2 separate regions of the Homo sapiens genome follow, and region 1 is linked to region 2. The links come from fine-mapping of genetic effects on gene expression. A gene starts in region 2. The other region holds a variant in brackets. All regions are shown on one strand. Distances are from middle to middle.

What was found. PIP is the estimated chance that this variant, and not a neighbour inherited with it, causes the effect.
Region 1: its variant is fine-mapped to the expression of ALDH1L1-AS2 in testis (GTEx, PIP above 0.99).

Annotation. Positions count from the first base shown.
Region 1 is chr3:126,207,990-126,213,358 of GRCh38, forward strand. It overlaps ALDH1L1-AS2 (ALDH1L1 antisense RNA 2), which reads left to right. Exons shown (of 2, transcript NR_046383.1): 2 at 337-2,180. It overlaps LOC124909426 (a long non-coding RNA gene), which reads left to right and starts at 5,043. Exons shown (of 3, transcript XR_007096060.1): 1 at 5,043-5,369. RefSeq lists an enhancer at 140-1,339. The variant G/T (reference allele first, on the strand shown) is at 3,173.
Region 2 is chr3:126,176,960-126,182,328 of GRCh38, forward strand. It overlaps ALDH1L1-AS2 (ALDH1L1 antisense RNA 2), which reads left to right and starts at 3,106. Exons shown (of 2, transcript NR_046383.1): 1 at 3,106-3,585. ALDH1L1 (aldehyde dehydrogenase 1 family member L1) reads right to left here and starts at 3,627. Exons shown (of 23, transcript NM_012190.4): 1 at 3,517-3,627. RefSeq lists enhancers at 3,287-4,042, 4,043-4,796.

The sequences.
Region 1 (5,369 bases), 31 kb after region 2:
ATTTTACATACTTTACACATTGTGCTTTACAGCAGAACCTGAGAAACACGCTCATCAAGTCCAGGAAATAAATAGAGGTATCAGCTGTCACTTTTTTATTGTAAAATTTTTTAGTAGTGCAATAAAATAAAAACAAAATAGAATACATAATTATTAAGAGAGAAGACATAAAACATTACTATTTTCAGATACAATGATTTTGATCTGCAGAAGTCTCAAGAGAATAAACAGAAAAATTCCTAAAATTAGTAAGTAAAGCCCTAGCTCCATCACGTACAAGCCTTATGAGCTTAGGTCACTCACTTCCTGTCTCTTCTCTCATCTGAACCTCTGTAGGGCCCTGGAAATGGGGGATCTCCTGCCTTGACAGCTCATCAGTACGTGTGAAAAGCCAACAAGAGTGGATATGATAGGAACTGCAATCACACAGCACTTTGGAGAATGTGAAGATTGGTGCTCACAGCAGAAGTTAACACACTGATGCTGTGATCACTGTTCAGTAGGTGGAATGGTCCTTAGTGATCCTTGAAGAGTAGCTGCAACTGGAAGACACAGAATGGAGAGGGTGGATCATGCAAATGAAAAGATGGGCTCCAACATTCAGCGGAAGGAATTTATGGTTGGTTCCCCCGTTTTTTTGTTGGCGGTGGTGGTTTATTTTCATTCCCCATGCCCGGTCCTTCTGATGGCACTCACTGATTTGGCTCTAGGGCACAAGTCTATGTTGCATGCAGTCCTGGTGTAACAATCAATTGAGGCATTTCCTGGGCGAGGAGCTGGGACACGGGCCAAGCCAATCAGACTCTGGTTCCCCCAGGACGCTGAGTCATAGTGGAGCCATGCCAAGACGGAAACAGCTGACCTGCTGTGCTGCTGCCATGGCTCCCTGAGGAGTGTCCCTCAGTTCCTAAGAGGGGACTGTCTGCACGCTGGCTCTTATGGGTTGATTTTGCACTTTTTCTTTGATTCTGAGAGCTACCCACATCCTCTCCAATTCTTGCTCCAGTCAACCAGACACAGTTTCTATTGCTTGCGGTGGAAGACATGCCCATGCAGAAGGCGTCAAGGCTCTTGGGAAGATGGGGAGTGGCATGTGTTCTCATGGTGTTCACAGCTGCACATGGGAAACACCTCATTGCCTTCGCACAACAAACCCAAGAGGGAGGGGGTTCCTTCCCCAATTCTGCAAATGGAAAAACTGAGGCTCAGAGGGGAAATTGATCTCTCAGTGTCACAGCCAATGAATGACAGAGGGAAAGTTGTGGTCCAGGGCTGAGTCCGGGTTCCACAGTGTGTAGATGAATTTCTTCAACCCCTTCATCATGTGACAAGAGCCACAAGGTCTCCAGGCCTCCTGGACATGACAGGTGTTTGCTCACAAACTGAAACTTTCTCTGCTGGGTCACACCCTCCTCGCCCATCCCTACTCTTGGTGCAGGGCATGAGCTGGACCCTGGAAGACCAATGGGTATTCAACTTTCAGAAAGCCTTGGCGAGGTCTAGTGATGAAATAATTTTGTCATTTGGAATGCTGACAAAAAAAATTTGAATTTTTCGGCCATAGTTTCATTTCCATAAATCACTTCATTCTTATCCTAATCCTTCCCCAACTGTTTGTCAAAATTCCCATCAAATATTTTTCCACTTGGAAGACTGATTTTTAACACTCATACCCCACCCCCACCAGGCCACGGTGTGGACATTTTTCATTCCTAAAGTCAGGAGGCCAGAGACATTTCCAAGAGAGATCAAAGCACTTGCTGGCCACGTTGGAAAATGAGAAGGGAGGATAAGGGTGTGAAGGGGCATCCTGCCTCCAGGAGGGACCCCCTCCAAGTGAGTTAAGAGATGTGGGCCAGGAGGGCTGAGCAGTAGCATCCACTGGGAAGCCCTGGGCTCCAGGCCCAGCCCTGTAGCTGCCTCACTGGACAAGCCCTTCCAGCTGGCCTCGGAGGACATGGACCATCTTCCCGGGTTTGGCTGTGTATCCCAGTAGCACCATGGAGTAGCCAGGGCCCTTGGCCAGGCCACTAAACTACACCGTACCCCCCTTGTCATCTGTTGCATGCAGGCATCAGAATTTACCTTTAAAGAAGTGTTTCTCAAACTTGAGTCACTTAGTTTTCATGGCATATTTATACAATATATGTGCGATTATTAAAAGTTTCCTTTAAATCAAATTATTGCCTTTGTTTAAATATCTTTCTGTAACTTGCACATATCATCACTGAAGATGGAAAACCAGTATCACATGCCGTAAACAAAGGGTAACTAAACAAAATAGCACAACTATAAAATAACAGATTTCATATGTCCCCTAAAATCAACTTGTGTACTACCAGTGATATGCACACCCAATTTTGGAAACACTACTTTAAGGGGGTTGGGATATGAACTCAAATACCTCCAACTCTAATATCCCCAAGTCCTTCAATTATCAGGGGTTTCTATTTCATAATTTAAAAAACAAGCAGCCTGAATCCACATTCTACATGCGATGGCAAGTCTCCTCCCACCCATTTCTTCTTCCCTTAGGAGACTTTTGTGGATTTCCAAAAGGTTCATGTTTTTCAGGAACAAACCAATGGCCAAACCGTGGTGTGGTGGGGGTTGAGGGGTGTGAGCTACCTCCTTTCCCACAGTGCCTAGCTCCTCGCTGGCAATCCATGTTCCATTGATGCCCAGATTTACACACCAAGCCTCTCTCCTGAGCTGCAGATGTGTGCACCTGACCATACACTTGGCAATTCTCTTTGGCTATCTTGTTGACGCCTCAGCTTAGCACACTGAAGACAGAACTCCAGACCTTTGCCCTAATCCTGCTTTCTCCAGGCTTCTCTGCCAGGGGGAGTGGCCATTCCCCAGGTCCTCATGTTTCCACAGGGGCAGAGACCACGTCTGTCCCATTCCCTGCTCTATGTCCTATGCCTGGCCGGAGTAAGAGCTTGTATGGGCCAGCTTAAGCTGTCATACCAAAGAACAAACGACCCCACGTCCTAGGGACTTCAAATAACAAAGGTTTATTTCTCTCGCATATTTATGCCTCTCTCAGCATGGCTGGGTCTTGATCCATGTCAGCTTCATTCCAGAATCAAGGCTGATGCAGCAGCCCCTACCAGACGTGCCAGGCTGCTGCCAAGGGAGAAAGAGCGACAGTGCAGCCACCGATGGC[G/T]CCTGGAGCTGCCACATCTGCCACACTGCTCATTGCCCGTGGCAGAGACTGAGTCACGAGGGCCGGGAAGCTCCGTCTCCAGGGAACAACTTGGGAATAACTGCACAGCCTCCCACAGTGCTTGACAGATACTGATTGGATACTGATAGGAATAAGGTGTCACAGGCAGCTTCCATCATGATCAGCTTCCATCATGGATCATGAAGTTCACATGAAGATTAGAAAGTGGGCTTCATGCTTGGGTGGGACACAGAGCTCACCCACTGGCTGAGATATTCATTTCTCACACAGGTGAAGTCAAAGGCCTTACACACAGGACCCCCACACCCACAGGCCTCACACTTGGCCCTGGAGGCTGCAGGCTGGCAGCCCAGTGTGTGGGGTCCCCCTGCTAAGCCCCTCCAGCCTGCCCCTATCCACACCCGTCCTCCGCCTCTGCATCTGACCCGGCTCCCACATCACACCGCTGGGGGCTCCTACCTCCTGTGGGCCTCACTGCCTAAGAGTCTTTGAACCTCTTAGTCACTCTGAGCCTTCCATGGTTTGGTCCTTGGAAACCAAAGGCTCACACAAGGTCCCATCTAAGGGGCCTGCCCAGGAGGCAGATCTGGTCAGTCAAGTCCTCTCTCAGCAGGAGTCCCCTGCAGGCAGAGACTCACGGCTGCTGAGCCAGGAAGTCAGGGCCACAAGACTTATAGCCCTGGCAAGTCTCCAGGTAGTTGACACTGGATACACTGCCATGGTGGGGCTGGAGGGTCAGCGGGCGGTAGGTCAGGATGTCAAAAACAGGGGAGATTGACCCTATAGATACACCTGTATGAGCACAAAATGGCAAGCACACAGCCCAAGTTCCTATCCACAGGGTGTCCGTTGAAAAGATCATGGGTACACCTTGGAGCACTTGAGGCGGATGTCAGAAAGAATGAAAAAGCTCTGTGCAGGCCTATGGAAAGGGCTCTGGGACTGAGGAAGGAAGGAGAGGGGGAAGGGAGGAAGGGAGGGAGTGAAGAAGGAAGGAAGGACGGAAGGAAGGAAGGAAGGAAAGGAGGGAAGGAAAGGAGGGAGAAGGGAAGGAAGAAAGAAGGAAGGAGAGAAGAAGGAGGGAGGAAGGAAGAAGAAAGGAAGGGAGGAAGGGAGGGAGGAAGGGAAGGAGGAAGGGAAGATGGAAGGAGGGAAGGAAGGAGGAAGGGTGGAAGGGAAGGAGGAAGGGAAGATGGAAGGAGGGAAGGAAGAAGGAAGTAAAGAAGGAAGGAGGAAGGGAGGAAAGAAGGAGGGAGGGAGGAGGAGAGAGGGAAGGAAGGAACGAAGGAAGGGAGGAAGGAAGGAAGGAAAGAGGGAAGGAAGGGAGGAAGGAATGAGGAAGGGAGGAAAGAAAGAGGGAGAGAAGGAAGAAGGAAGGAAGGAGGGAAGGAGGAGAGGAGGGAGGGAAAGCAAGAAGGCGGGAGGAAGGGAAGGAAGGAGGGAGGCGGGGAGGGGTACACAACAAGGGCAGCCTAGGCTCCGGTTGCTGTGACAAAGAAGCGGAGTGGCCCTGCTGCATTCTTTTGCTGGCATTTGGCATAAGCCTGTGATAGATAAAGAGCAGAAGGTGCCTTTAGGGGGCACCGAAGAACAGGGTCGATAGGGCTGGGGGAAAGCAAGTATTTCAAAGCTAACTTTTCCATCATTTTTGTGTTTGAACCATGTAAATGTATTGCCTGTCCCCCTAAAATGGATTAATTGAGAAGAGAGCGAGACCACGCCGAGCCTCGGGCCATCACAGCCTGAATGGGAAGCAGCGAACCCCGCTGTGACGGCTTCAGGCCCCGGCCTGTGGAGGGTGGGGGAGTCGCCCTTGGGAGGGGCTGGGCCCCACCGCCGGCTCTGCTTCTCACGGCAGGGGCGCCCCCAGGAAGGGACAGGACAGGGAGCTTTGTCCCGCAGCGAACGGGAACGCGGAGGCCCGGCCTCTCGCCTCCCCACCCTCCCCACCCTCCCCGCGCCTTCTCGGGCCTCCGCGTCCGCCCTGCGCCCTCGGAAGGCGCCGCCCGGCGGCCGCGGCCCTTCGCCGCAGCCAGAGTGCTTTGTCCGAGCTCAAAAAAGCCGTCTCCATGGAAGCGGCCCTTCCGCTCGGAGCCCGGCGGCCTGGAGGGAGACCCGGCGGGGATGCGAGGATTCCGCCCCAGCCCCAGAGGACGCGGCGGAGAGCCTGGAGGAG
Region 2 (5,369 bases):
TCAACACTGTAAGTCATTACAGATTGCAAATTAAAATATAACAATGAGATACTACTATATGCGTATTAGAAGAGTTAAATTAAGAGCACTGACAACAAATGCTGATGAGGCTGTGGAGCAACAGGAACTCTTATTTATTACTGGTAGAAATGAAAAATTATGCCACCACTATGGAAAAAGGTTTGGTAGTTTTTTATAACACGAAACATACTTTTACCATGTGATCCATCAATCGCTCTTGATATTTACTCAAAGGAGAAGAAAACTAATGTCCACACAAAAACCTGCACACAAATGTTGATAGCAGCTTTATTCACTGCTAAAACTTGGAAGCAACCAAGATATCCTGTAGTATGTGAATGGAGAAATAAACTGTGGTACCTCCACATCCATACAACAGAATATTAGTCAATGATAAAAAGAAATGGGTTACCAAGTCACAGAAAGACATGGAGGATGCTTAAATGCATTTTGCTAAGCGAAAGAAGCCAGTCTGGAAAGGCTATATACCATATGATTCATACATACTATATGACATTCTGGAAAAGGCAAAACTACAAAGGCAGTAACCAGTGGTTGCCAGGGATAGGTAGGGGGGTTGGGGGGTGGATGGGTAGAGCACAGGAGAGTTTTAGGGCAGTGAAACTATTCTCTATGATACTGTAACACTGGATACTCATCATTATATGTTTGTCCAAAACCATAGAAGGTACAACACCAAGAGGGAATTCTAATGTAAATTATGGACTTTCATTAATAACATTGCATCGATATTGGCTCACCAAGTATAACAAAATTGGCCAGGCCTGGTGGCTCACACCTGTAATCCCAGCACTTTGGGAGGCCAAGGCGGGCTGATCACTTGAGGCCAGGAGTTCAAAAGCAGCCTGGCTAACATGGTAAAACCCTGTCTCTACTATTATAAAAATACAATAATTAGCTGGGCATGGTGGTGCACCTGTAATCCCAGCTACTCGAGAGGCTGAGGCCCAAGAATTGCTTGAACCTGGGAGGCAGAAACTGTAGTGAGCTGAGATTGTGCCACTGCACTCCAGCCTAGGCAACAGAGCAAGACTGTTTCAAAAAGAAAAAAGCTGTAACAAAAATATCCTATCAATGCATGATGTTAAAAATAGGGGAGGCCAGGCCTAGTGGTTCATGCCTGTAATCCCAGCACTTTGGGAGGCCAAGGCAGAGGATCACTTGAGCCCTTGAGTTCAAGGCCAGCTTGGGCAACAAAGTGAGACCCATCTCTACAAAAAAATTTTTAAATTAGCCAGGCGTGGTTGTGCATGCCTGTAGTCCCAGCTACTTGGGAGGCTGAGGCATGAGAATCACTTGAGCCCAGGAGTTCAAAGCTGCAGTAAGCTGTGTTTGTGCCACTGCACTCCAGCCTGGGCAACAAAGTGAGACCCTGTCTCAAAAAAAAAAAAAAAGAAAAAAAAAAAAAGAAAGGAAAAGAATAGAAAGAAAAATAGGAGAAAGCGCGCAGGAAGGGACAGACTGAGAATATGGGAACTCTGCACTCCGTCCTCAATTCTTCTGTAAACCTAAAACTGCTCTAAAAATGTCTACTAATTGAAATAAATAAATGAATCTAGCTCTATAGTTCACATCTTACTCTAAAATACAGTCCAATTGGGTTAAAAATAAATACTTGAAAATCAAATATAAGAAGAAAACATTAAATTATTAGAAAATATTGGTAAATATTGAGTTATACAAACCTGACACTGTCAAAACACCCAACAAGTAACAAACCACGATAATTGTGTAAGGCTTAAGTTTGTGTGTGTGTGTGTGTGTGTCTGTGTGTGCATGCGTGTGTTTATCTGCAGGGTAAAAGCCTAGAAGAATTTACACTGAAATGTTGAAAGTTACTGGGTAAAGGGTTTTGGGTTTCAGAGGTTTTTGACGACTGTAATTATTTTGTTTTCTTAACTGAATGTTCTTTTTTTATATTGTACATGATTACTTCTGAAAAAAAAAAATAAAAGAGTATGTCGTTCCCCCCCTGCAGGGAGGCAGAGTCCAGGTGGCCACCAAGGGGCTGTTGTCACAGTCCAGGGAAAGCCAGAATGGCAGGCACGGGAGCCTTGGGAGGGGCCTCAATCAGGCTTGCCCTTTGGCCCCAGAAAGAGCAGGGGCCTGCAGTGAAGCCCATAGAGCCCCTTGTGGGCCGTATGGGCCGCCTCCAGGCCTCCACCTCCTCCCCCAGTCATGGCCGCTCAGTGTCCTTTCACTTGGTGGTGTGGGGACACTGGGAGGCTTCCTGGGCCTCCCAACCCTCCTACCCAATTCCCAGCCCAGGCTTGGCTCTCCAGGACCCAGCTTCTAGTCCCTGTGAGGCTGGGCCACCCTGCAGGACTGCAGCTCTGGGCCCTCTGTTCTGGTGCTAGGGCCCTGGGGCCCATGAATGCAGTTCTAGCACTCGGGAGGCTGAGGCGGGAGAATCACTTGAACCCGGGAGGCGGAGGTTGCAGTGAGCCGAGATCGTGCCACTGCACTCCAGCCTGGGCGACAGAGCGAGACTCTGTCTCAAACAAACAAACAAACAAACAGCAGCCAACATTCTCCGAGGGTTTCCTAGGGCCAGGCGCGGGGCAGTCTCATGTAATTCTCAAGCAATCTTGGGAGGCAGGCACTACTGTTCATTGCCCCTCCCGATTTTAGAGACAAGAAACTAAGATTCAGAACACAAGAAACTTGCCCAAGGTCAAGGAGAAGTGGAGGCGTGGGGAGGAAACAAAGTCACCTGACACCAGAGCCCATGCCTCCAAACTCCAAGTCTGGGACTCCTGATTAAATTCCGTCTCTGTCTGCACTTTGGGAAGATTCTTTCCTCTCCTAGGCAAGTGCCCGCGGGGCCTGAGCTCTCGATAGCGGGGCCCCAGGAGCCACGTTGTGGGGTCTGCTATCCGGCCTCCCTCTGCACGCGCGACCGTCCACTTGAGCGCAGTGGCTGGAGCTGGGACTCCAGCGCAGCCCCTGAGCGCTCACGTCGACCCCTCCAATCACAAGAGGCCCTCGTGCCAGGCCCCCAGATTTGGCCAATCAGGGAAGACCTTTCCCTGTCACAGAATGGGGTCGAGGGGCCCAGGAAACAGGTAGTCCCCAGTCACAAATCATCGCGTCGCCTTCGCTGGTCCCTTTCTCTTATCGAGCCTCAGTTTTCTCTTCCATAAGCCGGGCCAGCAGTGCCCACCCCACAGGTTGGCGCCAGCTCCGTAAGGGCCCTACCACCGCGGCCGGCCAGATCCTCGGCGGGCCAGTCCTGGCGCTGCGGTCATTTAGCCTGATGACCCCTGGCCAGGTTCAGCCTCAATTGCTCCAAAGAACTCCGGACCCGTACCCCGAGCCCGGCGTCCCAGCGGCGAAGTTGATGGGCCCCGCAGGAGCCCTTGCGGTGAGAACCGAGTCCTGGAGCCCCTGGAGCCCCCGGAGCCCCCGGAGCTGCAGCCGGGGCAGCCTCCTTTCCGCCGGGAGTCCAGCGCTCTCGAGAGCCCAGAAACTCACCGCGCGCAGGAGTTGGTGCGGGCGTCCCGGGCAGGTTAGACTTCTGTGAGCCGCAGCCCCGAAACTGAGGTTGGTGCAGACCCGTCCTGGGAGCCAGGAGGTGGGACCTGTCCCCGCCAGTCCGCGAGCTCTGGTTAAGGCCAGAGCCCGTGAGGGGAGGGGCGCGGGGCGGGCGGAGAGTCAGCCGAGTGGGGGCGGCGCTCACCGGTGGTGGGACTATGGCGGGAGCGCAGCGCACCCTCTCCGGGCGGGTCTATAAATGCCATGTAAAAGCCAACCCCGCAGGGGCCTGCGCTCTTTCCCGCTTAGGTCAAGAAGACTTACTGTGGACCCTTGGAGAATTCCCAGGGCTTTGAAAAGTCCCAAGCACCCAGCAGGGCTGGCAGTTCTGAGCGCTGGCAAGGCTAAGTGGGTCAGAGGAGACCCTCGCCAAGCCGGTGACTCACTCACTCGCTCACCCTCTCTCACTCTTGATGGGCCAAGTACCTGCCATGTGCTACGGACACAGCAGAGCGAAAGGAGACGCTGCCCTCCGGGAATTTGCAGCCGCTTGCAGAGGCGGCCCCTTAGCAGCTGCGCATCCGGGTGGATAGCGGCGCTTCTGCCCGCCCAGTGCCTACCCGCCTCTCCGAGAGAAAAACAGCCCCTGGTTTTCTCTCTGCAATTCCCCTTCTCCACTCTCTCCCTTCTACTCAGTCCTGGTGCCGCAGACCCCTCCTCCTGGTTCCCAGAGATCCTGGCCAGCCCGGTCTCAGGCAAGGCCATGTAGAATGCCGGGAGTGATAATTGCGTATTGTTTCATGACTGCAAGCCTGTGTCCAGGTGGCTCCTTCTCCTGGAACACCCTTCCCACCACACCTGCGGCCGCACTGCTCCGTGCCCTGCTAAGCCTCACTTCTTTTGAGGCGACCCTCTCGCTAAGTCCCGACCACCTGGCCCTCTCTCTGCTCAGTGCCTGAACACATCAGGCTTGCTGCAGCCCCTGCCTTTACCTCTCTACTTGTAGTGTTCTTTCAGAGCCTGCTCCCATATGGTATCACATATCAGATATCTGATGCAGAGCCTTAGAGAGGCTGTTCCAGGTCACACAAACTAAGGAAGTCCCTCAGCCACTCCCTGCCACATCACCCTGTTCTATTTCCTTCACAGCACTTAACTGTATATCTGATATTTCCTTGTTTCTTTGTTTGTTCATTGTCTGTCTCTCCCACTAGACTGTAAGCTCTTTGAGGACAGGAAATTTGTGAGATGTATTCACTGTTGTATCCCCAATACACAGTGATGGCTTGTAGCAGTTGCTAAATAAATGTTTGTTGAATGGCTTAATGCATGTATTTTGCTCACATAAGCCAGTATGGGCACCCAGGATTGAGGTGGCCTGTGCCTGCTGATCCACTTAGCCTACTTTCAGGCACTGTCCCCTTGTTCTTTAGGCTCCAGCCTGCAGGTCTCCCTGCTGTCCCTCATATCTGTGGAACTTCTCGACTCATAAAGTTTCCATGTGCCGTTCATCTTTGTCCAGAGAACCCCCATCATTCTTCAGGAAGTTCCTACTAAAATGCCATGACTTCAGGGAAGCTTTCCCTAGCCTCAGCCTTACTAGGACAGATTCCTCCATTATGTGATCACAGAGAGGCCTGTAATTTTTCTTCATGAACCTCTCTCAACTTTATTTATTTATTTTTTTTTGAGGTAGAGTCTCACTCTGTCACCCAGGCTAGAGTCCAATGGTGCAATCTCAGCTCAATGGACCCTCCACCTCCTAGGTTCAAGCGATTCTCCTGCCTTAGCCTCCTGAGTAGCTGGGATTACAGGCATGCGCCACCACACCCAGCTAATTTTTGTATTTTTAG